Linked DNA regions of Homo sapiens. The protein of the gene in region 1 interacts with the protein of each later gene in a pairwise test. Each region holds a gene or a part of one and is shown in the gene's direction. Other genes may lie near its edges.

The links. The genes of interacting proteins can lie anywhere in the genome.
Region 2: the proteins of KASH5 (region 1) and EFNA5 interact in binary tests that used the Homo sapiens proteins (3 or more experiments, as listed by UniProt).
Region 3: the proteins of KASH5 (region 1) and TSHZ3 interact in binary tests that used the Homo sapiens proteins (3 or more experiments, as listed by UniProt).

Annotation. Positions count from the first base shown.
Region 1 is NC_000019.10:49,383,469-49,391,312, forward strand, and holds the start of KASH5 (protein KASH5), read left to right. Parts: upstream 1-4,780; 5' UTR 4,781-4,859; exon of another isoform or gene 4,860-6,870; intron 6,871-7,109; exon of another isoform or gene 7,110-7,178; intron 7,179-7,320; 5' UTR 7,321-7,415; coding exon 7,416-7,458; intron 7,459-7,844. UniProt on the Homo sapiens protein: As a component of the LINC (LInker of Nucleoskeleton and Cytoskeleton) complex, involved in the connection between the nuclear lamina and the cytoskeleton.
Region 2 is NC_000005.10:107,667,766-107,675,684, reverse strand, and holds the start of EFNA5 (ephrin-A5 isoform 1 precursor), read left to right. Parts: upstream 1-4,747; 5' UTR 4,748-5,071; coding exon 5,072-5,196; intron 5,197-7,919. UniProt on the Homo sapiens protein: Cell surface GPI-bound ligand for Eph receptors, a family of receptor tyrosine kinases which are crucial for migration, repulsion and adhesion during neuronal, vascular and epithelial development.
Region 3 is NC_000019.10:31,276,265-31,283,561, reverse strand, and holds part of TSHZ3 (teashirt homolog 3), read left to right. Parts: intron 1-3,809; coding exon 3,810-7,015; 3' UTR 7,016-7,297. UniProt on the Homo sapiens protein: Transcriptional regulator involved in developmental processes. Functions in association with APBB1, SET and HDAC factors as a transcriptional repressor, that inhibits the expression of CASP4.

The DNA of each region.
Region 1 (7,844 bases):
AGGCGGAGTTTGCAGTAAGACAAGATTGCGCCACTGCACTCCAGCCTGGGCCACAGAAGGAGACTTTGTCTCAAAAAAAAAAAAAAAAAAAGAAAGAAAAAGAAAAGAAATTAGGGTAAAAGTTACCCCTAGGAGAGTAGGGACTGGAAGGAGCCATGAGGAAGAATCTTGGAGGCAGGTAGTATGTTGTATCTTGATCTCGGTTTAGATAACACAGATGTGTTCAATTTCTGAAAATTCATAAAGCTTATCACTTATGATCTATGGACTGTTCTATATAAATATTACACTTCACTAAGAGTTTTGGTAAAGTCAAAAATCAGCAGTCAGCATAAAACAAAACCCAACTATATGCTGTTACAAGAGACATGCCTTAAATATAAGCACACAAAAAGATGGAAAGTTACAGGATGAAAAAGATACCCTATATAAACACTAACCAAAGAAAGCTGGAGAAATCTCTACATCAAAGTAGCCATTAAGGCAAAAAGCATTGCTAGAAGTAAAAAATGACATTTCAAGGTAATAAAGGGGTCAAGTCACCAGGAGGATATAACCATTCTAAATCTGTATGCATTTAATAATACAGCTTCAACATATATAAAGCAAAAATGACAGAACTGAGAGATGGAAAAATCCACAGTCATTCAGTACAAGAAGCAAACAGTGAAGATATTAAAGATTTGAACAGCATGATTGACAAACTTGACCTGACATAGCTGACCTGCAGGATACACACTCTGTTCTTTTCTTTTTTTTTTCTTTTTTTTTTTTTTTTGAAACAGAGTTTCACTCTTGTTGCCCATGCTGGAGTCCAGTGGCACAATCTCGGCTCATTGCAACCTCTGCCTCCCAGGTTCAAGCAATTCTCCTGCCTCAGCCTCCTGAGTAGCTGGGAAGACAGGCGTGTACCACCATGCCTGACTAATTTTTTTTTATTTTTAGTAGAGATGGGGTTTCACCATGTTGGCCAGGATGGTCTCAAACTCCCAACCTCAGGTGATCCGCCTGCCTCAGCCTCCCAAAGTGCTGGGATTACAGGCGTGAGCCACCACACCTGGCCTTTTTTTTTTCTTTTTTTTTTTTTGAGATGAAGTCTCGCTCTGTCTGGCCCAGGCTGTAGTGCAGTGGCGCGATCTCAGCTCACTGTACCCTCCACCTCCTGGGTTCAAGCAATTCTCCTGCCTCAGCCTCCTGAGTAGCTGGGATTACAGGCACATGCCACCACATCTGGCTAATTTTGTATTTTTAGTATAAACGGGCTTTCACCATGTTGGCCAGGCTGGTCTTGAACTCCTGACCTCAGGTGATCCACCCAACTTGGCCTTCCAAAGTGCTGGGATTACAGGTATGAGCCACCACGCCAAGCTACTCTTTTCAAATACACATGAAGCATTTGCTAAAATAGATGAAATCGTGGACTATAAAGCAAATCTCAACAAATGTCAAAGAAATGAAATCATATAGAGTATGTTTGTATGTTTTCTGACTACAGTGAATTAAGTAGGAAGCAATAATAAAAAGATAGCAGGGGGCCGGGCGCAGTGGCTCACGCCTGTAATCTCAGCACTTTGGGAGGCTGAGGCAGAGGAATCACAAGGTCAAGAGATCGAGATCATCCTGGCCAACATGGTGAAACCCCGTCTCTACTAAAAATACAAAAAAAAAAAAAAAGTTGGCTGTGGTGGTGCGTGCCTGTAGTCCCATCTACTCAGGAGGCTGAGGCAGGAGAATCACTTGAATCCAGGAGGCAGAGGTTGTAGTGAGCCCAGATCACGCCACTGCACCCAACCTGGCGACAAAGCGAGACTCCGTCTCAAAAATAAATAAATAATAAAAAGATAGCAGGGAAGTCATAAAATATTTGGAAAGTAAGCAATATATCTCTAAAAATTATCACTCAGGTCAAATTAGAAAATATTTTGAATTGATAATAATGGAAACGTGGCCAGGCATGGTGGCTCATGCCAATAATCCCAGCACTCTGGGAGGCTGAGGCAGGCAGATCACTTGAGGTCGGGAGTTCGAGACCAGCCTAGCCAACATGGAGAAACCCCCATCTCTACTAAAGATACAAAAATTAGCCAGGTGTGGTGGTGCATGCCTGTAATCCCAGCTACTCGGGAGGCTGAGGCAGGAGAATCATTTGAACCCAGGAGGCAGAGATTGCAGCGAGCCAAGATTGTGCCATTGCACTCCAGCCTGGGTGACAGATCGAGACTCTGTCTCAAAAAATAATAATAATAATAGAAATGTGGCATAACAAATGTGTCAAGTGTAGCTACAGAAGTTTTTAGAAGGCAAATGATGGCTCTAAACGCATGTATTAGAAGAGATCTTTAAAAATCAAATGACCTGGCTGGGCACATGACCTGGCATCAGCACGGTGGCTCACGCCTCTAATCCCAGCACTTTAGGAGGCCAAGGCAGGCGGCTCACCCGAGGTCAGGAGTTCAAGACCAGTCTGGCCAACATGGTGAAACCCCGACTCTACTAAAAATACAAAAAATTAGCCAGGCATGGTGGGGCACGCCTGTAATCCCAGCTACTCAGTAGGTTGAGGCAGGAGAATCGCTTGAACTCGGGAGGCACAGGTTGCAGTGAGCCAAGACCGCACCACTGCACTCCAGCCTGGGTGACAGTGAAACTCCGTCTCAAAAAAAAAATCAATGGCTTAATAACCTAAAAATATCAGTGACCTAAGCATTCACCTCAAGAAGTTGGGGGGAAAAAGCTGGAAAAAGAACAGCAGATCATGCCGGGCGCGGTGGCTCACGCCTGTAATCCCAGCACTTTGGGAGGCCGAGGCGGGCGGATCACGAGGTCAGGAGATCGAGACCATCCTGGCTAACACGGTGAAACCCCGTCTCTACTAAAAATACAAAAAATTAGCCGGGCGTGGTAGCGGGTGCCTGTAGTCCCAGCTACTCGGGAGGCTGAGGCAGGAGAATGGCGTGAACCCGGGAGGCGGAGCTTGCAGTGAGCCGAGATCGCCCCACTGCACTCCAGCCTGGGCGACAGAGCGAGACTCCGTCTCAAAAAAAAAAAACAAAAAAACAAAAAAAAAAACAGCAAGATCAGGGGCTTGAGGGCACATGGCTGTAGTCCCACCTACTCAGGAGGCTGAGGTGGGAGGATTACTTGAGCCCAGGAGGTGGAGGCTGCAGTGAGCTAGGGTCACATTACTGCACTCTATCCTGGGTGAGAACCTGTCTCAGAAAGAGAGGAGGGGGGAGGGGAGGGGAGGAAGGGGAGGGAGGAGGGGAGGCAGTGGACGCGGAGGGGAAGGGAGGGGAAGGGAGGGGAAGGGAGGGGAAGGGAGGGGGAAGGGAGGGGAAGGGAGGGGAGATAAAGGGAGGGGGAGGGGAAGGGAGGTGGGAGGGGAGATGAGGGGAGGAAAGTGGGGGGAGGAGAGGAGCAGAGGGGAAGAGAGGGGGAGGGGAGGGGAAGGTACGGGGGAGGGGAGATGAGGGGAGGGGAGTGGGGGAAGGGGAGGACAGGAGCAGAAGGGAAGGGAGGCGGGAGGGGAGGGGAAGGTACGGGGGAGGGGAGATGAGGGGAGGGGAGTGGGGGAAGGGGAGGAGAGGAGCAGAGGGGAAGGGAGGGGGGAAAAGAGAGATGGCACAAATTATTAATATCCGTCACCACAGATCTTACAGATATTAAAAAGATTGGGCATGGTGGCTCATGCCAGTAACCCCAGCACTTTGGGAGGCCAAGGTAGGAGGATCATTTGAGGGCAGGAGTTCGAGACCAGCCTAACATAAGACCGTGTTTCTCCCCCTCCAAAAAAAGACAATATTATGAACTTTATGCAAATTATTTGAAATTTTAGATAAAATGGAAAAATTCCTTGAAAACCACAACTTACCAAAACCACAACTTACCAGAAATAAAATAGAACATCTGAATAGTTGTATTTTTATAAAAGAAATAGAATTTGTAATTTAAAGTCTTTCCACAAAGAAAACTCTAGGTCCAGATGGCTGGTGACTTCTTCCAAACACATAAAAAATAAATAACATCAATCCTACACTAGCACTTTCAAAGAATAGAAAAAGAGAGAACACTTCTCCACACATTATATCAGCATAGCCTTGTTAACAAAACTCAACAGGGATCTCACAGAAAAGAAAAGAAAAGAAAATATGGCAATACATAAAAAGGACAGGCCAGGCGCTGTGTCTCACGCCTGTAATCCCAGCACTTTGGGAGGCCGAGGCGGGTGGATCGCCTGAGGTTGGGAGTTCGGTACCGGCCTGGCCAACGTGGTGAAACCCCGTCTCTACTAAAAATACAAAAATTAGCCAGGTGTGGTGGCGGGCGCATGTAATCCCAGCTACTCGGGAGGCTGAGGCAGGAGAATTGCTTGAACCCGGGAGGCGGAGGTTGCAGTGAGCTAAAATTGTCCCACTGCACTCCAGCCTGGGCGACAGAGCGAGACTCCATCTCAAAAAAAAAAAAAAAAGAAAGAAATGGGGGACGGACAAGGAGTCTCTCAGTTCAATTCCCCCTTCCTCAGCCCATTTCACCAAAGCCTGAAGCGGAAGAGAAAAACACGAGCCCCAGCATGGCGGGCGCAGCCACCCCCTCCTTCCACCACCAGACAAACTCCGTGGCCACAGCCCACACCGCCAGCGCGCATGCGTGACACGCGTCGGCCGCCGGTTTGCACCTGCGTCTTAAGAGGAGTCCGGGCGGGGAGGGGCGGGGCTCAGACGCTGCGCACGCGCACTCGCGACCCCTCGCCTCCTTTTGCTTTTTCTGGCGGGAAAAGCTCACGCGCACCTCCCCCAACTCAACTGCCGTTCGTCGTTCGTGGATGTCCGTTGTGTCCCGAGACTAGGACGTGGCTCCAGGTGCGCCCTGCCCCGCGGCGAGGTTCCCAGAATGGCCCTTCCCAGCCCCTACCGAAATCCTAGCGAAGCCCCCCCATATTGTGGGAGAGATACCCCTGCGTCAGGGCCCCCCAGATCCTGACCACTTGGGAGGCCGAGGCGGGCGGATCACGAGGTCAGAAGATAGAGACCATCCCGGGGAAGTGAAACCCCGTCTCTACTAAAAATACAAAAAATTAGCCAGGCGTAGTGGCACGCGCCTATAATCCCAGCTACTCAGGAGGCTGGGGCAGGAGAACTGCTTGAACCTGGAAGGCAGAGGTTGCAGTGAGCTGAGATCGCGCCACTGCACTCCAGCCTGGGTGACAAGAGTGAGACTCCGTCTCAAAAAAAAAAAAAAAAATCCTGACCACATCCCCTCAGATATACTGAAAGGAGTCCACCAGGAAATCTTATAGTTGACCCCCGAAATCCTGTCAGAATCGTCTAGAAATTGTCAGACTTCTCCCTCAGAGCCTGCCAGAAACTTTCCCCAAAATCCTATTACTCTCCCCAGATCAGCAGAGCCACCTAGACTCGTGTCAGAGATCCCCAGAAATCCTGGCAGGTCCCCTCCCAAACCCAGTCGGACCTCAGATTCCGTCAGAGAGCACAGAAGTCCATCAAAGACACCCCAGAAACGGAGACCCCGAAATGCACTCAGAGACCCCCGCAGAAATCAAGACCCTCCAAATCCAGCCAGAGACCCCCAGAAATCCAGTCAGACCCCTGCAGAAATCAAGACCCCCAAAATCCAGCCAGAGACCCCCAGAAATCCAGAGACCCCCGCATAAATCAAGACCCCCAAAATCCAGAGACCCCGAATAAATCAAGACCCCCAAAATCCAGTCAGAGAACCCCCAGAAATCCAATCAGACCCCCGCAGAAATCAAGACCCCCGAAATCCAGCCAGAGACCCCTGAAATCCAGTCAGAGACCCCCACAGAAATCAAAATCTCCAAAATCCAGCCAGACACTCCCCAGAAATCCAGTCAGAGACCCCCCCAAAATCCTGTCAGAGCCCTTGAAAGCCCGCCAAGGCCCACACCACCCAGAGCTCCTGCCAGGGCCCCATCCTGCTTCAGTGTCCCCGTCTCAGTCCCGTCAGACCCCCGAGATCAACCAACACCCCCGGGGTCCCTCAGGACTCCATCCCGAACCCACTCCGTGCGCCAGGGCCCAGCCAAGGCCATCGCCCCCCTTTGCACCCTGCAGGGTGTTCCAGACCCTGGAAGGGCCTCTCTTCAAAGACCCGTGTTTCCAGAACGGTGGCAGCGGGCTCACGTGGCTTGGGGAGAGCAGGCACTGGGGGAGCTGGGTGAGGACAGGCGAGCCCAGGCTCGACTGGTGGCCCCAAGGGGCGCCCGTGCCCGCTGTGATGATAGCAGCGCCCAGGTCTCTCTCTAGCCCCCAGAGTGCGGCCACTAAGGTTTTGGGTCGGCCTGGGTGGAATGGAGGCAGGATGGGGCCCCCCAAACTCCTGTCACTGCTGCAGGGACTGCCCAGAGCAGCTGCAAGTGGGGCTGGCAGGGATGAGGAGGAGGTGGCCTGGGCTTGGGGGACCATGTACATCCTGAGTTGGAACCCAGGGGAGCAGCAGGTTTGGGGCCATGATGAGGAGAGACCTAGGGGTTGCCCGACGGAGAGAAAAGGGACAGGAAGAGGCAGGAGCTTCAGAGACTACTCAATGCCACTCTAGCCTGAGGGACTGGAACTTAGTCCGGGGGCATTAGGGAGCCATGGGAGGATCAGGAGCAGGGGCAAGTCAGGATCAAACTCCCATGAGAAGCCAGCCGGCCAAATCCAGGCTGATGTGGCAAGAATGGCAGCTGCCCAGGGCTGTGTGGGAGCCAGACACGGCCCCTCGCTTCCCGGAAGAGGCCACGTGAAGCCGAAGCAGGATGCAGGAGGGCGTCCCAGGCAGAGACCTGGGCATGGGAGCGGTCCGCAGCTCAGAGTGGCTGGAGCATCATGTGCGATTTGGGGTGCTGAGGTGGGCGGTCAGCCATGCAGGGCCTTGGCGTCAGGGCCAGGGTCTCACCCGTACCCAGGATTCAGGGAGCCATGGAAGGGTACTTAGCAGGGGAGGGGCAGGTCAGCTCTGGGGCCCTGTGGGGACAGACTGGAGGACAAGCCTGGGGATAGGAGGCTGGGACAAAGGCCAGGGAAGAGGACCAGGCAGCCTGGACCGGCGGCAAGCCATGTGAAGAAAGGGAGGCAGTGACCTCCCCCACCCACCCACTAGCCCCTTTGATGTCAGCCACCTCGTTCTCCAGCCCACACCTCCAATCCATAAAACAGGTCAGAGCGGAGCTGCTCAGGTCACAGCGGGGGTGACAAACAGGTTGTGAGGACCCAGAGGTCCTGGGGCACAGGTGGGGCTAGGCAGGCCCCGACCCTTGGTGGCTGCTCTGAGGACACCATTTCCTGCTTCTCCTTCCAGGAGTGCTCGGGCCAGCTGGTCCTTTTCCCATCCCTCCCCATGAAGGAGGGAGGCTGGTAGCTTTGCCAGCAGCTGCGCCGCGGCAGGGGTGGCCCATGGACCTGCCCGAGGGCCCGGTGGGTGGCCCCACTGCGGAAAGTAAGTGGCTGGAACCCTATTTGCCCCGGGGAGGGTGAGGAGGGAGCCATGGGTGAATGGGTGCCAGGCTGTGACTCGGGGACTTGGGAGAGGTGGCTGGGGGTGGCTGAGCCTTTGCATGGGTGCAGAGTGGAAGGGAGGGAAGGGACTCTGGTAGATTAAGTGCCTACTCTATGCCCGCCCACCTGTCACTACCCCTTATCTCCTGTGGGGAGGCTGGACTGTGTGAGAGCGCAAGCAGCCGCACCCCTTACTCCATTCAGATCGCGGCCCAGATGGCACTTCTTACTTTATGTAAAGCAGCTGCCCTGTGACACTCTCTCCCCTGCCCCGCTTCATTTCTCTTCACAGTGCTCACATCTGTATGTCATGTTTTGTCTCTGTCT
Region 2 (7,919 bases), on another chromosome or scaffold:
ATATAATGTTGATTTGTATAAATTTAAATCACATGAATGCTTTCCTGAAGAGACAAAGTCACATTATCTAACGGTAAGTGTACAGTTAATAATATAGCTCTTCAAACTCTGTTCAAGTACAGCAGGTCCTCAACGCTGTTTGGTTGAACGTCACTTCGTCATAATGGTGATGAGAAAAAAAATCGATTCCAGGCCATGGCCACTGTCTGTGAGTAGTTTGCACATTCTCCTCATGTCTGCGTGGGTTTTCTCCGGGTACTCTGGTTTCCTCCTACAACCCACAGCTGTGCTCGCTAGGTTGTGTCTAAGCTGTGCACATATCTAAATATTCTCAGTATGCGTGAGTGTGGGTGTGAGTGTGAGTGCACCCCAGGATAGAAGGGTGTCCTGTCCAGGGTTACTTTCCTCCTTGAGCCCTGAACTCCGGCCACCTGCAATCCTGAAATGGAAAAATTGGTTACATGATCTTACTTGTTTTTATTAATCTTTCTCAAATGTATGTCTAGCTCACATTTATTTCAATGTTTAACATTAGAAGTGTTTTGGTCTTTATCTGGAAGTTTGGTGATGTTTTTGTGACCGGAGATATGCATAGGAATTTAACTCTTGTTTGTATCAAGTAGCCTATGGTGAAATTGTTTTCCTTATATATGCCACTTCGCTTAAAGTCACAATTTCCAAGAACATATCCCTGACATTAAGGACTTACTGTATCTATCATCCTGCTGACTAGTAACTTCCATACCAATAATTACTTAGGCACATAATCCCAGAGTCATTTGATTTAGGTTTATGAATTGTTTCACATAGACATTTGAGTTATGTTATGAACAGCCGCGAATTTCAACATCTTATTCCAATCTTATGAATCACTTTATGGAAGAGGACAATGTATACTTTTTTTTCTGTTTAATATGGGACTATTCAAACTTTAAATAGTAGAGATATTTAAATATAAGGACATCCATATTTTTGTGATATAATTGAATTTTCCCATTTGGTTATTGTATGTGTTTCAAACGGGAAATGAGTGGATACCATTTCTTTTTCTTCACCTTTTTTTCAGCTTTGATGCCACAGGAAGCCAGCTTGCTAGCTCCCTGTTACCTGATAGTTCCCTGACTAAAAAGACTCTTCAGTGAGGATCAGCATTTTACCCTAGACAGGAGTCGTGAATTTTCTTTTTAAAGATACACATATCTCTTAAAAGGGTCCAGAATATTTCCTGCAAAACTGTCTCTGTCATATGAGCACCTATTAGAGCCACTATAAGAAAAGCTAAGGAAACAAATCCATCTTTCCTGCAACAGAAAAAACACACACCCTAAAATGGGCCAAGAACTTGAACATCAGCAAGATTACAGACCAGGGAAAAAAGCAAATAACATTTTAACTGAAAATTTGATTTGAAAAATAAAAGCTTATCCATTGGTTCTCTCACTTCTTTCCCCACTTCTTTCTCACTGCTGGAACTTTGTGAAACATACAGATGATGGAGGAGCATTTGTGTCGACATTCTGAATTTCAATTTTTAATAATTAGGCAGATGGTTGGTTTGTGGTAAAGTCCATTATTGTACAGATTGCAATTTGTATCTAGTCACAAAATATAAGTTACTTTCCTAGGACGATTTCAGGATCTTTTCAGATAGGAAATATTACTGTAATTGAAAAACGACTTAACTTTTAGCCAAGAGCCCATAACATCCAGGTACCTCCGTGCCCCTATGAACTGTTTCTTTTCCTCTCGAGTCTTTATTGGTCATAGCCCTAGATTTCCCATCAAATTCAACCCGGCCTGAGCGGCAGGCAATGCCCCTGCTGGGTGCGGATTGCAGGCCCACCACTGGAGGGCGTCTGGACGCTTCTAAACAGCTCTGAAGCGCCTGGAAATCCCGTCTGAGGACTGGAAAGCGCAGGAGGGTGAACGTGAGATTTGATTTTATTGGGCTAATAAGTAAAAAGGAGTGCAGGCAGGTGTGGGAGCAAAAGTAAACTGCCTTTTTTCTCCTGGGGATCTGCCCTTCCCACTAAGGCAGAAAACTCCCTAGGGAACATGAGAAAAAATACCGCTGCTCCCGAGCCCGCGGACCCCTTAAGGGCGGGTCTCGGGGGCCTGTGGCCCCGCAGAGCAGGCGTCGGGCTCACTTCCTGGGCGCTGGACGACAGTGGGGACGCGTCCCGAGGCGCTGGGACAGTCTCGCTGCCAGGAGATCGCTCTTCAGTGGCGGCTGAAGACCAGGCTTGCAACCTGCCCTTGAAGTCCAGGACCGAGGGGCCTTTTCCAACAATAAAGGAACTGCTTTTCTTCCCACAGCCCCCGCCCCCGGCCCTCATTTCTTTCCGCACCGGGTTCGATAAAGGCGTTTATTCTTTGGGGAGTGGGCAGCAAATCACCCTCAAGGTTGAAATGGAAGAGGTGTGAGGTTATTTCTGAAGGGCTCGTCTGCCGCATTCATTTCCTCTCTGTGGAAGGTTCGCGCTGAATTGTAATCACTTTAAACTGTGATTTGCCTGATTTTTAAAAACGTGTTTTCAGAGCATCACTTTAAAGAAAACTTGCTTCCTGCCCAAGAATCTTTAAATCCCAAGTGGGAAGAGGAGGGCTGAAAGGCACAGGAGGGGTGCTCAGACTTCCAGATAACCCAGCGCCAGGCAGCGTGCGGCGTGGAGAGCGGGTGGAATGGACAGGAACGCGCACTCCCTGAGGCTCCGTTCCAGCCCATCCGTCACCTGCGGGGCACCAGAGACAGATGCCGGCTCTCCAGCCAAAGGGTGGGCACAGGTTCCTTTAAAATCGAAAGACCCTACTCCCAGGTAAAAAGATGTCAAATCATTCCTTAGCCCAGACGGAATTCAGCACCCAAAGGGTTACACGTGGCTGCCGGGCTCCGGCGCAGGAGAGGGCGCCTCGGCACTCCCAGTAATTCAATTAGTCAGGTTTCTAGAAGGTGGGGCGGGGGAGGGGGTAGGAGGCGTGGGGAAGGGAGATTAGGAAAACGCCTCTTTCTCGTGGAGCAAACCAATCCGGTTGGAGTAAAGAGAGAGGAAAAACCCCCAATCTGTAAGCAAACAGTAGGCCGTTCCCTGACTGGTTGCTCCAGCTATCCCCCCACCGCGCTCCCACCCTTCCCAAGTAAACTGCTTGGAAGGAGGAAAAAAAAAAAAAAAAAAAAAAAGACAGTCCACATGACCCGGGCCGCAGCGGCAGCAGCGCTGGCTGGGCGCGGGCTGGCGGCACCTCCCCCTGCTTCGTCCGGAGCTCACACCCGCGCTCGCGCCGCCCGCCCGTCCCGCGTCCCGCGCAACACGCCCGGGCGGAGCCCCATCCCCCCGCCCACGTCCACGTTCACGCGTGCGGCCTCGCGCTCTGCTGAGGCTGCTGCCACTGGGTCGCCGCCGCTGTCGGCTTTCCACGCAAGTCATTAACGAGGGGGCGTGCCCGAGGAGATTTTTTTTCCCATAAAGCATTTTTTCTCTCGCTCTCTTTTTTTCCCCCTCTTTTGCAAAACTGACTTTTACAAAACCCTTTCCACTTCTTGCCAGTCGTTTCAATTCCTCCTGGGCTGCTCGTGCTGCTGCTGCTGCACTCAAGTTTATTTATTTTCCCGCCTGGGTAGGGGTTTTAGGATTCGGTTTGTGGTTTTCACCTCTGTTGCTGCTGTGCCTAAGGAGGGAAAGAGGAGCAGCTGCGGGAGGATCGGGAAGGTTTTCTGATGTAGTCATCGGGGAGGTGCCACTCGCTCGTGCGCTTTTTTTTTTTCCTCTTTTCCCATTTCAAACTGATTGATGCATCTCTACAAGTTGCTAGGCTTGGACCCGCTGGAGTCGCAGGGACACTTCTGAGAGCTCACCCCGGGCTCTTGGCACCGCGTGTGGGGGCTCAGTCTCCCTCTCGGAAGGCGATCGGAGACTGACATCGGCCCATCCAGGAGTTGGAGGGATCCATTTGAAAGTGATTGTTTCCCCTCCCGCTCTCCAGCCGAACAGTTGGGTTGGCGTCGTCTTGCAGGTTTAGGAATCCCAGCTCTGCCAGGCCGGCTGGTCTTAACCTCTGCTCTTCATTCACTGTGGTGCACCCACACCCAGCCAAGGAAAGCACGCGCGAGAAATCCCCGAGGCTCGGCCAGCCCCCGGGGTGCCCTCTTCCGCTACCGCCGCGTTCCGACTCTGCTGGGGGACCTGCCGGAAGACGCGAAGAGCCAAACTTTTCTTTGAGGTTTTCGAGGCAAGACCGCTTCGAAAGCCGGCGCAGCTGCCGCTTAACCAGTTCCAGGACACCGACAAGGCTGGGTTGCGGCTCCGGATCCCCACCCTTCTCGGCGCACCGCCCGGTACCGCAGCACTTACGACTCCTCTGAGATTTCTGGGGGTCGCCCCGCTAAGGCACAGAGGAGGCTGAGGAAAGGGGTTCTCAGACTCCCGGGACCACAAGCGCGAAGCCCTCTATCAGCACGTCGCCCTTCTCCTGCAGTTTCCCACCGGCCGCCAAAGTAACTTGGAGCGAAGCGTGGCGCAGTGCGAGGGCCCCGGGCGGTGGCGGAGCCGTGCGTAGCCTGCTGCGCCGACGCTGAGCCGGGCCCGGCGGGCCGGTGTATGTCTCCCCGCGGCTGCGGCGCGCAACTCCCGGTGACTGTGCAGCGCGCGCCGCCGCCTGCCCCGACCCGCGCTGCAGCCGCCCGGCCCGGCGCGCACCTCCCTCTCCCGGGGTGACCGGCCTGCCGCCGCCGCCCGAGACACAGCTTGGCACCTCTTCCCCCGCCCTCGCCGCCGCCACCACACACACGCACGCTTCTCTCCATCTTGTGATTCCTTTTTCCTCCTGAACCCTCCAGTGGGGGTGCGAGTTTGTCTTTATCACCCCCCATCCCACCGCCTTCTTTTCTTCTCGCTCTCCTACCCCTCCCCAGCTTGGTGGGCGCCTCTTTCCTTTCTCGCCCACTTTCATTTTTATTTATTCATATTTATTTGGCGCCCGCTCTCTCTCTGTCCCTTTGCCTGCCTCCCTCCCTCCGGATCCCCGCTCTCTCCCCGGAGTGGCGCGTCGGGGGCTCCGCCGCTGGCCAGGCGTGATGTTGCACGTGGAGATGTTGACGCTGGTGTTTCTGGTGCTCTGGATGTGTGTGTTCAGCCAGGACCCGGGCTCCAAGGCCGTCGCCGACCGCTACGCTGTCTACTGGAACAGCAGCAACCCCAGGTAAGCCGATAACAGGCGGAGAGCCAGGGCTACCCGGGCCTCGGGGCCCTGCGGAAGGAGCGGCGGCGGGGATCGGCGCGCACCAACCGCTGGCGGCGCGCACCCTCGGAGCCTGCGTCGCCCGGGCGCTGATGGCTTGAGGCGTCGGCGGGAAGCGCTCGCGTCGCGCCCCTCTTTGTTAAGCCGCCGCGGAAAGGCCAGGTACCCCTGGGAGTCCCCGGGGCTGCCTAGACCAACTGCTTCTGCGGGGCGCCGGGAGACTCGGAAAAGGGCGGGAGCCGGGGAGTAGGGACTTCTCTGCTTCCCAGCCCCGGCATCTGGCTGGCATCCGGTTCCCGGCGCGGGGAGCCCCCAGTGTGCGCAGCCGGGAGCTCCTTCCTGGAGCGTGGGTCCGCAGGGACTGCGGAGAGAACCCGCCAAACATCCCCCAAAGTTTTTTTTTTTTTTTTTTTTTTTTTAATTTTAATTTTCCCTTCTCTTTTCCCGGTGCGCGCAGAGAGAGCGCACGGGCTGGGGGAAGTGAGGGGGGCTGGGAAGCGGAAGCTTTAGGTTTTTATTTTCCTCTTCAACTGCGAGGAAATCATTCGGCCCCTGAGTCAGTCTGGGCCCGGCGCGCCTGGCAGTGGAGAGGATTCTCCCATCTTCTCCATCCCTCCACCCACCCCAGTGGGTTCAAGGTGCCAGAAAGTTTGATCTAATGCCGGGTTACGTCATGTGTGCAGAACAAGCTGCCAGAGTTGGCCGAGCCAGGAGGTGGGAGCCCTTCGCCCGCGGCCTGGCGATGTGCTGCCGGAGGAACGCGCGCGATTACCTGGAACCGATTTGTAGGCGTCCCGAAGCCCGCCGGGTATGCGGGAGACTAGAGGTGGGCGCCGGGGGCGGTCCTAGTGCGCGTGCTGGACACCGGCCAGTCGCAGACGTCCCGTGTTTTCGGACCCTGGAAGTGGAGTGGGGAGGTTATCCAGAGTGCCCGGCGGGGTCCTCCGGGTCTGGAGCAGTTCCGAACCTTTATTGCTTCCCGGCCTGTGCACAGAAGTCGGCCCCGCTAGGCCCATACCGCACTGCTTTCTCTGGGACAGAGGCTAGCTTCCAGCTGTGTGCCGGTCTCGGTGCCCTCCTAGGTGCTATTTATTAATAGTACCGATTGCATCTAAAGTCACAGGTTTTTCACTGGGCTGGAGTGGAAGTTGGGAAGAGAGAGGCGGGAGGCCGAGGGGTTAGCCTAAGAGTTGGTGCGCGCCCCGGGCTCCAGGAGAGAGGGTATCGGTGGGCGCCTCCAGTTTTTTCTATCTCCTGCGGGCCCTCTCCGCCTGCCTCCAGCCTCCCCTCAGCATGCAGGCAAGAGAGGGATTCCCTGCTTGAATAATGTCAGCGCAGATGAAGATGGGAAGATTTCCCCACAAGCAGTCCGCCGGTTACAGAACCAGGAGGGAGTTCCCCCTATCCCGCTAGTCCAAGATAGTCTTACTCAGGTAGCCGCCCAAGTCCTAAATGAACCGCTGAACAGGAGTGGAGATATTCCTGAAAGTTTGGTTCAAAAAACAAGAGTCTCCTGGAGGTGGGTGGTGGAATGGGAAGCGATTTCTTCTTTGACATGCCACTTACCACTATTAGGAAAAGAGAAAAAGAAGCCATCCTGCCAGAGGAGAGATGCCTTTTATTAAAGCTGACAAGACAAATAGAGCAAGCTTTCCAGTTGTGATGGTGTTAAAAGCCAGTCTCATTATGTTGGTTAGTTTTTTTTCCCCGTTTGTGCTTTATTAGGCAGCATATACGAAGCAGAAATTTGTATCTCTGAACTTTAGCACCTTATTAAATAAAGCAACACTGAAATAGTTTCTTTGAATTTGGGATATCTTGCTCTCGGTTGTCTTTTCTTTCCCACACCAAGCTCCACATTGTGATCTTTTTCTCATGGCATTCATTTATTTGGATACTTGGGTGTTCCAGTCTTCCTGGGTTAAAACGGAAAGAACCAGCAACACCCCTACTTTAACCCCCCTTCTTAACCTGTCAAGCTAGTCTGAGTTAGTTTGAGGACATTTTATCTTAGGTTATCTCTGTTTTGTGCTTTTGATACTGTTGTTTGGTTTGAGATTAGCACATTGATTTTTGTCACAGGTCATGTTTTTTAATAGATCTGCCCTGCCTGCAGAAAACTCTTCTGCTCAGGATGCCATGGAGGCTTTGAACCTGCCCAGACAAAGTTAATCTGCAGAATTTTAAAATACCAAGAGTATTTCTAAATCGGTATTCTAACTTCAGGTTTGTAGAATTACCTTTCTATTTGATCATTATCAGTTTGATAATGGCCAAAAGAAAGAATGATGTACCCCTCTTAACCCCAAGAGATACAGCCCTAACACTTATTATTCTTAGGAATTTATGGACACATTTATCTTGGTATGTTATCACAGTTAAAAACTTACTTTAAAAACAATATTTTAAAAGTAGGCAGTTTTATCTCTGAAGTGTTGAATAAGATGTTGCTCTTTTGATGCATTAAGAAAAGTCAACTTGGATATAAGAGGCCACATGCCAAATAAGTATTTTAAAAATAAAAACTAACAGTTTTCCACAAACAATAGTAAGAAAATATTTCAGAAAATTTCCACGGGTTTAGTAAATTTTATAAATTCACTGTTGTGCAATTCCTTTTCCTGTATGTTATTTCATAAAGTAAGCTAGCCATGCTTTGTGTCTTTATATAGAACCTATCTGTT
Region 3 (7,297 bases), about 18 Mb from region 1:
TGCACTGCACAGTGTGCGGCAACCTGCCTGGTGCCTGTGGCAGCTTGATGCGTATTTGTGGAGTGCCTTTCATCCCTTAGTTCCCTCATTCCACTGGGTCCATTTCCATTTTCTAGAACATTTTTAAAGTTCAGTAATCAAGAGTATAAATATTCTCAGAGTAGTGAAATTATTGCAAAGCATGGTGGAAGATGGGAATTTTCCCTTTATTTTTATGTATTTATTTTTGGAGATAGGATTTTGCTTTGTTGCCCAGGCTAGAGTGCAGTGGTGGGTCATGGCTCACTTGCACCCTCCACCTCCGGGTTCAAGTGATTCGCCTGCCTCAGCCTCTGGAGTAACTGGGACTGCAGGCATGTGCCACCATGTCTGGCTAATTTTTTTGTATTTTAGTAGAGATGGGGTTTTACCATGTTGCCGAAGGTGGTCTCAAACTCCTGAGCTCAGGCAGTCTGCCTGCCTTGGCCTCCCAAAGTGCTGGGATTACAGGAATGAGCCACTGCGCCCAGCCCTTCCCTTTATTTTAATGTGGAGGGGAGAACCAGTGGGTAAAAGTCTTAGGCTCCACCTAAGGAAATACTTCTCACCTTCAGATCGGAAAAGAAAATGGTCATTTGAACAGGGAGTGAGGCCCACGTCACAGCCACGAGGGTGTGCGCTTGAAAGAACCCTCAGAAACCATGACATGGTCAGGAGTGGGGTGTGCGGTGAGGCCAGGTCTCTCCAGGACCCAGTTCTGCTTGGCACCAGAGCCTTTTAATTCTCCTCTGAGTTGGATCTTGTTCCACCAGGGAGGTTGAGAGGTTGGCCTTTTCTTTCCATATTAATTTCCTCCTCAGTCATCAGACTGATGACATTCTGACCCTGCTGTGTAGTTTACAAAGCATATCAGAGCGTGTTGTGGGCCAGCCCAGGAGAGGAGCTGGTCATATCATTCATGGTGCATGTGTTGGGGAGGGGTGCTCCGGACGGCCTGGGCTGGTTTGGTGCTTGTGCAGTGGGGGTGGGGAAGGCTCTGGCCATGGGGAGATGCATTGCCCCTGGGTGGAATGTGGGCTGGCAGAGCCCCTGGGTTTCCCTCTCACCTGGTGGCCTTCACCCACAGAGGACTCTTTCATGTCCACTATTGGCTCTGCTGCTTCTGGCTGCTGGTGTCCTCTCGTAGTGGCTGCTGTGGGGCCATTTCTCTCTCAGACTTAATTTCATGGGAGCCACTGTAATAGGAGCAAAATCCCCAGGGTGTGGGGTTTGTATTGCAGACTGTGGCTCCAAGAGGCATCTCCAGGACAGAAGGGGCTTTGATATCTTCACCCATCTACACAGGCCTGGGCATTTCCTTGAGTCTCAGTGGGAGGGACACCAGCCATGGGATTTCCTCCTCTTTCCCCGTTTACAATAAAACCGTACTATGGAAACATCATATATGCATGCACCCGGTGCACTTCTGCAGACAGTGGGCTGTGTCTAGCTAAACCCAGCCTACTCTGCTCCAGCTGTTCCCCGAGAGGATTATAAGAGAGGTTGCAGACCCACCTGGATGCTCTGACCTCAGTCATACTGTGTGCCCCAGCTAGGGTAACAAGCCATCCTTCAGTTTGCATAAGACTGAGTAAATTCCCAGGATGCAAGACATTCAGTGCTGAAACCAGGACAGCTCCAGGCAAATTGGGACACTTGGTTATTCTACCTCGGCTGTTCTTCCTCCAGGCCTGCCACTCCATTGGAGTTTTGAGTCCAGATTTCTAGAATGTGCTGCATGCCGAGGAAGTCTGTCGGGGGGCAGGTGAGGGAGAGTGAGATGTCTTCTTTTCTTTTTCTTTTCCTATTCTTTTCCAACACATGCATTCACAGTCTTCACTGTGGCTAGCACAGGAGCCTCCATTGGCCAGCGCCGTATTTCCCTAAGCATTTGGTCTTGGCCCTAGGAACAGAGCTTTTGCTGTCTTTATTTGTCATCTCAAAGTGCATGGCCTTAAACTTGAGGTTCCCCACAGCACTTCACACTCAGCTGACTGCAGCAGGGCACTCTCTTCTGGTCATTTGTAAAGAACATCCATGGCTCCTGGACAAGACTCTTGCTTAGTAGTTGGCAAATGAGCAGAAGTATCCCCCTCCCTGCAGCTGATGTGTGTACCTGGGGCAGTTCCCATCCAAGTTCACATTACATCAGTGTTGGGATTCCATGTGTCTTGGCTTAGGAATCTTGGCACTCAAAGTAGGGGGCTTAGGAGCAAAAGAATCACACCTGTCCTGGAAGGAATGAGGGGGGCCTATCTGCTTGACTTCAAGGGACTCATTTCACTGTTTTTGTTTGTTTGTTTGTTTATTGTTGTTGTTGGTTTTCTGATGTGAAATGGAACAGGGGCAAATCTTTAAAGCTGGTGGAGTCAATTCCACAAACAAAACTTCCCTTCCTTTCTTAAGAGCTTTTTGTAGAAATCAGCCTTGCAATTAGCACTGCAACGTTCCAACCACTTAACACACTTCCCCACTGGCCTTTTGAAGCAAACAAGTATTTAGAAGCTGACAGGACAAAGTCACTTTATTTCTCCTTTTCCTTTACCTTGAAATTGTTCCTAGCCACAGGGCTGGCCACTCCTCACTGTCCAAAAAACTACCCTGATGCAGTATGCAGTGGCAGATCAGTTTAGTAAGGAATAACCCAAGTCACCGAATGCAAGAGAATGAAAACAAAAACAAAAACAAAAAAAACACCCTGTTGCATTAACGCAAGTATTCTCTGGGCTCTGTGTCTCTGGACGTGCATCTTCCAGAACCTGCAGGCGCGTGGCCTGCCCTCCACCTGCGTGGGAATGCATGCTGGATTTACATCCCAGTTACATCGCTTCCAGAAAGACAGGATCTCTGTTGGATGCCCATGAAGCTTATACTGAGTAAATATTGACAAAGTAGTCTAAAGAGCAAACACTTTGACATTTGTAAGGTCCACTGGAAGGTCTTGTATATATTTATACATCAGGAATGAGCACCGCATACCAATTTTCCTGAACTTGTTGTGACATAATTCTGCATGGAGAGTGTGTGTGCACAGGTGGCTGAGAACGGCTGAGTGTTCACATGGGGGACAGGGCTGGGGGCTGGGTGGTAGCTGGTCAGGGTATTTCCTCTCAACTGGAACGAACCCACACCTATCCCTGCCAGGAAACCTACCTCTAAGCTTTTCTGAGACCTGCTTTTCCAGAAGGAAGAAAGAAAAAAAAAAAGCCACAAAATCTTGTTTTTCCCTTATTACAATGGACGTACTTTTCTTTTTACTTGGTAAAAATTTTATTGATGTTTTTATACTTTATATTTATTAAAGATTGAGCCTCAAAAATGTAATGAGTAAAAAATGCTTGCTTAATTTAAATTGTGAATCTGTCTGTTAAGAAATGCATTAGGGGTAGGAGAAGCATAAGACATATTAATTGACAGACAGGAACTGCTGTCTCTGAGGTTGATACAAGTAATTTATTACTTTAGAAATGAATGCCACCTCCAGAATGTGCTTCATTAATTTCAAATTTAGTTTTAATTTCAAGCTGTTGCCCCTTGAGAAGAATAAGGTGGCAAATTATGTTTGAAGAGCAGATTTTTTTTTTTTTTTGCTCCAAAGAAACACCACATTTTAACTGTTTAATTTTACAAATACATGTACCCATCTGGGTTGCTGTGTTTTCCTGAGAGCCCAGAACATATTCTAGGTAAGATCAACAAGTACTAATGCTTTTTTTTTTCTTTCTCTCCTTCTCCCTGTCTCTCTTCATTCCATCCTACCTGTCTCTCTTTCCCACCTGTTATCATGGCAGCCTATGTTTCCGAAGAGTTAAAGGCTGCTGCCCTGGTGGACGAAGGTTTAGACCCAGAGGAGCATACGGCAGATGGAGAGCCCTCGGCCAAGTACATGTGCCCGGAGAAGGAGCTCGCCAGGGCCTGCCCCAGCTACCAGAACTCCCCGGCCGCCGAGTTTTCCTGCCATGAAATGGACAGCGAGTCACACATCAGTGAGACCAGTGACCGAATGGCTGACTTTGAAAGCGGCTCCATCAAGAACGAAGAGGAGACCAAGGAGGTCACGGTCCCACTGGAAGACACGACTGTGTCGGATAGCCTGGAGCAGATGAAGGCCGTGTACAACAACTTCCTCTCCAACTCCTACTGGTCCAACCTCAACCTCAACCTGCACCAGCCCTCCTCGGAGAAGAACAACGGCAGCAGCAGCAGCAGCAGTAGCAGCAGCAGCAGCTGTGGCAGCGGGAGCTTCGACTGGCACCAGAGCGCCATGGCTAAGACGCTGCAGCAGGTGTCACAGAGCCGCATGCTCCCGGAGCCCAGCCTCTTCAGCACCGTGCAGCTGTACCGGCAGAGCAGCAAGCTCTATGGCTCCATCTTCACGGGGGCCAGCAAGTTCCGCTGTAAGGACTGCAGCGCTGCCTACGACACCCTGGTGGAGTTGACGGTGCACATGAACGAGACGGGGCATTACCGCGACGACAACCATGAGACCGATAACAACAACCCCAAGCGCTGGTCCAAGCCTCGCAAACGCTCCTTGCTGGAAATGGAAGGGAAGGAAGACGCCCAGAAGGTGCTGAAGTGCATGTACTGTGGCCACTCCTTTGAGTCCCTGCAGGATTTGAGTGTCCATATGATCAAAACAAAACACTACCAAAAAGTGCCTCTGAAGGAACCCGTCACTCCTGTCGCCGCCAAAATCATCCCTGCCACTCGGAAGAAAGCTTCCCTGGAGCTGGAGCTCCCCAGCTCCCCAGATTCCACAGGTGGAACCCCCAAAGCCACCATCTCAGACACCAACGATGCACTTCAGAAGAACTCCAACCCTTACATCACGCCAAATAATCGGTACGGCCACCAGAATGGGGCCAGCTATGCATGGCACTTTGAGGCCCGGAAGTCGCAGATCCTGAAGTGCATGGAGTGTGGGAGCTCGCATGACACCCTGCAGGAGCTCACTGCCCACATGATGGTCACTGGCCACTTCATCAAGGTCACCAACTCTGCTATGAAAAAGGGGAAGCCCATTGTGGAGACGCCTGTCACACCTACCATCACAACCCTGCTGGATGAGAAGGTCCAGTCCGTGCCCCTGGCAGCCACCACCTTCACGTCCCCCTCCAATACACCTGCCAGCATCTCCCCAAAACTGAATGTGGAGGTCAAGAAGGAAGTCGACAAGGAGAAAGCGGTCACTGACGAGAAACCTAAGCAAAAAGACAAGCCTGGCGAAGAAGAGGAGAAGTGTGACATCTCTTCCAAATACCATTACTTGACTGAAAATGACTTAGAAGAGAGTCCCAAGGGGGGGCTTGATATCCTCAAATCCTTGGAAAACACAGTGACATCCGCAATCAACAAGGCCCAGAACGGCACTCCTAGCTGGGGGGGCTATCCCAGCATCCATGCCGCCTACCAACTTCCCAACATGATGAAGTTGTCCCTGGGCTCGTCGGGGAAGAGCACGCCCCTGAAACCCATGTTTGGCAACAGTGAGATTGTCTCCCCGACGAAAAACCAGACCCTGGTCTCTCCACCCAGCAGCCAGACGTCCCCCATGCCCAAGACAAACTTTCATGCCATGGAGGAGCTGGTGAAAAAGGTCACTGAGAAAGTTGCCAAAGTGGAGGAGAAGATGAAGGAGCCGGATGGGAAGCTTTCCCCGCCCAAGCGGGCCACTCCCTCCCCATGTAGCAGCGAAGTCGGGGAACCCATCAAGATGGAGGCATCCAGCGATGGGGGCTTCCGCAGCCAGGAGAACAGCCCCAGCCCCCCGCGGGATGGGTGCAAGGATGGGAGCCCCCTCGCTGAGCCGGTGGAGAATGGCAAGGAGCTGGTGAAGCCCCTAGCCAGCAGTTTGAGTGGCAGCACGGCCATCATCACCGACCACCCGCCTGAACAGCCTTTTGTTAACCCTTTGAGCGCCCTGCAGTCAGTCATGAACATTCACCTGGGCAAGGCCGCCAAGCCCTCCCTGCCTGCCCTGGACCCCATGAGCATGCTTTTCAAGATGAGCAACAGCCTGGCGGAGAAGGCTGCTGTGGCCACCCCGCCGCCCCTGCAGTCCAAGAAGGCAGACCACCTCGACCGCTATTTCTACCACGTCAACAACGACCAGCCCATAGACTTGACAAAAGGGAAGAGTGACAAAGGCTGCTCCTTGGGTTCAGTGCTTCTGTCACCCACGTCCACAGCCCCGGCAACCTCCTCATCCACGGTGACAACGGCAAAGACATCTGCCGTCGTATCATTCATGTCAAACTCGCCGCTACGCGAGAATGCCTTGTCAGATATATCCGATATGCTGAAGAACTTGACAGAGAGCCACACGTCAAAATCCTCCACTCCTTCCAGCATCTCCGAGAAGTCTGACATTGACGGGGCCACTCTGGAGGAGGCTGAGGAGTCGACGCCCGCCCAGAAGAGGAAGGGCCGCCAGTCAAACTGGAACCCCCAGCACCTCCTGATCCTCCAGGCCCAGTTTGCCGCCAGCCTCCGGCAGACCTCAGAAGGGAAGTACATCATGTCAGACCTGAGCCCCCAGGAGCGGATGCATATCTCCAGGTTCACCGGGCTGTCCATGACCACCATCAGCCACTGGCTGGCCAACGTGAAATACCAGCTTCGAAGGACAGGTGGAACAAAGTTCCTCAAAAACTTGGACACTGGCCACCCCGTCTTCTTTTGTAACGATTGTGCGTCCCAAATCAGGACTCCTTCCACGTACATCAGTCACCTAGAGTCACACTTAGGCTTCCGGCTACGGGACTTATCCAAACTGTCCACCGAACAGATTAACAGTCAGATAGCACAAACCAAGTCACCGTCAGAAAAAATGGTGACGTCCTCCCCCGAGGAAGACCTGGGGACTTCCTATCAGTGCAAACTTTGCAATCGGACCTTTGCCAGCAAGCACGCTGTTAAACTTCACCTTAGCAAAACACACGGGAAATCTCCGGAAGACCACCTTCTGTATGTCTCTGAGTTAGAGAAGCAGTAGCATTTGCTTTTGATAGAAAGGACTGCAGTTTGCTTTGAGGGAAACTGTGGAAGGCACCTTCAGGCCCCCTCTGACTTGTTGTTCTTGGCACATGTTCTTATTTTAACTGCAGAGAATCACTCTGGGCTGGACTGTTTTGTATAACTGTACAGTGTTTAATAGAGGTGCATAATCAGCTGTTGTTACTGGTAAAATATGAAGGTTAAAATGCAGTGGTAAGTGTTTGGAACTTTGTGTAAACGGGATTTAGTTGTGAGCATCCTCCCGATGCTTCAAGCTGCA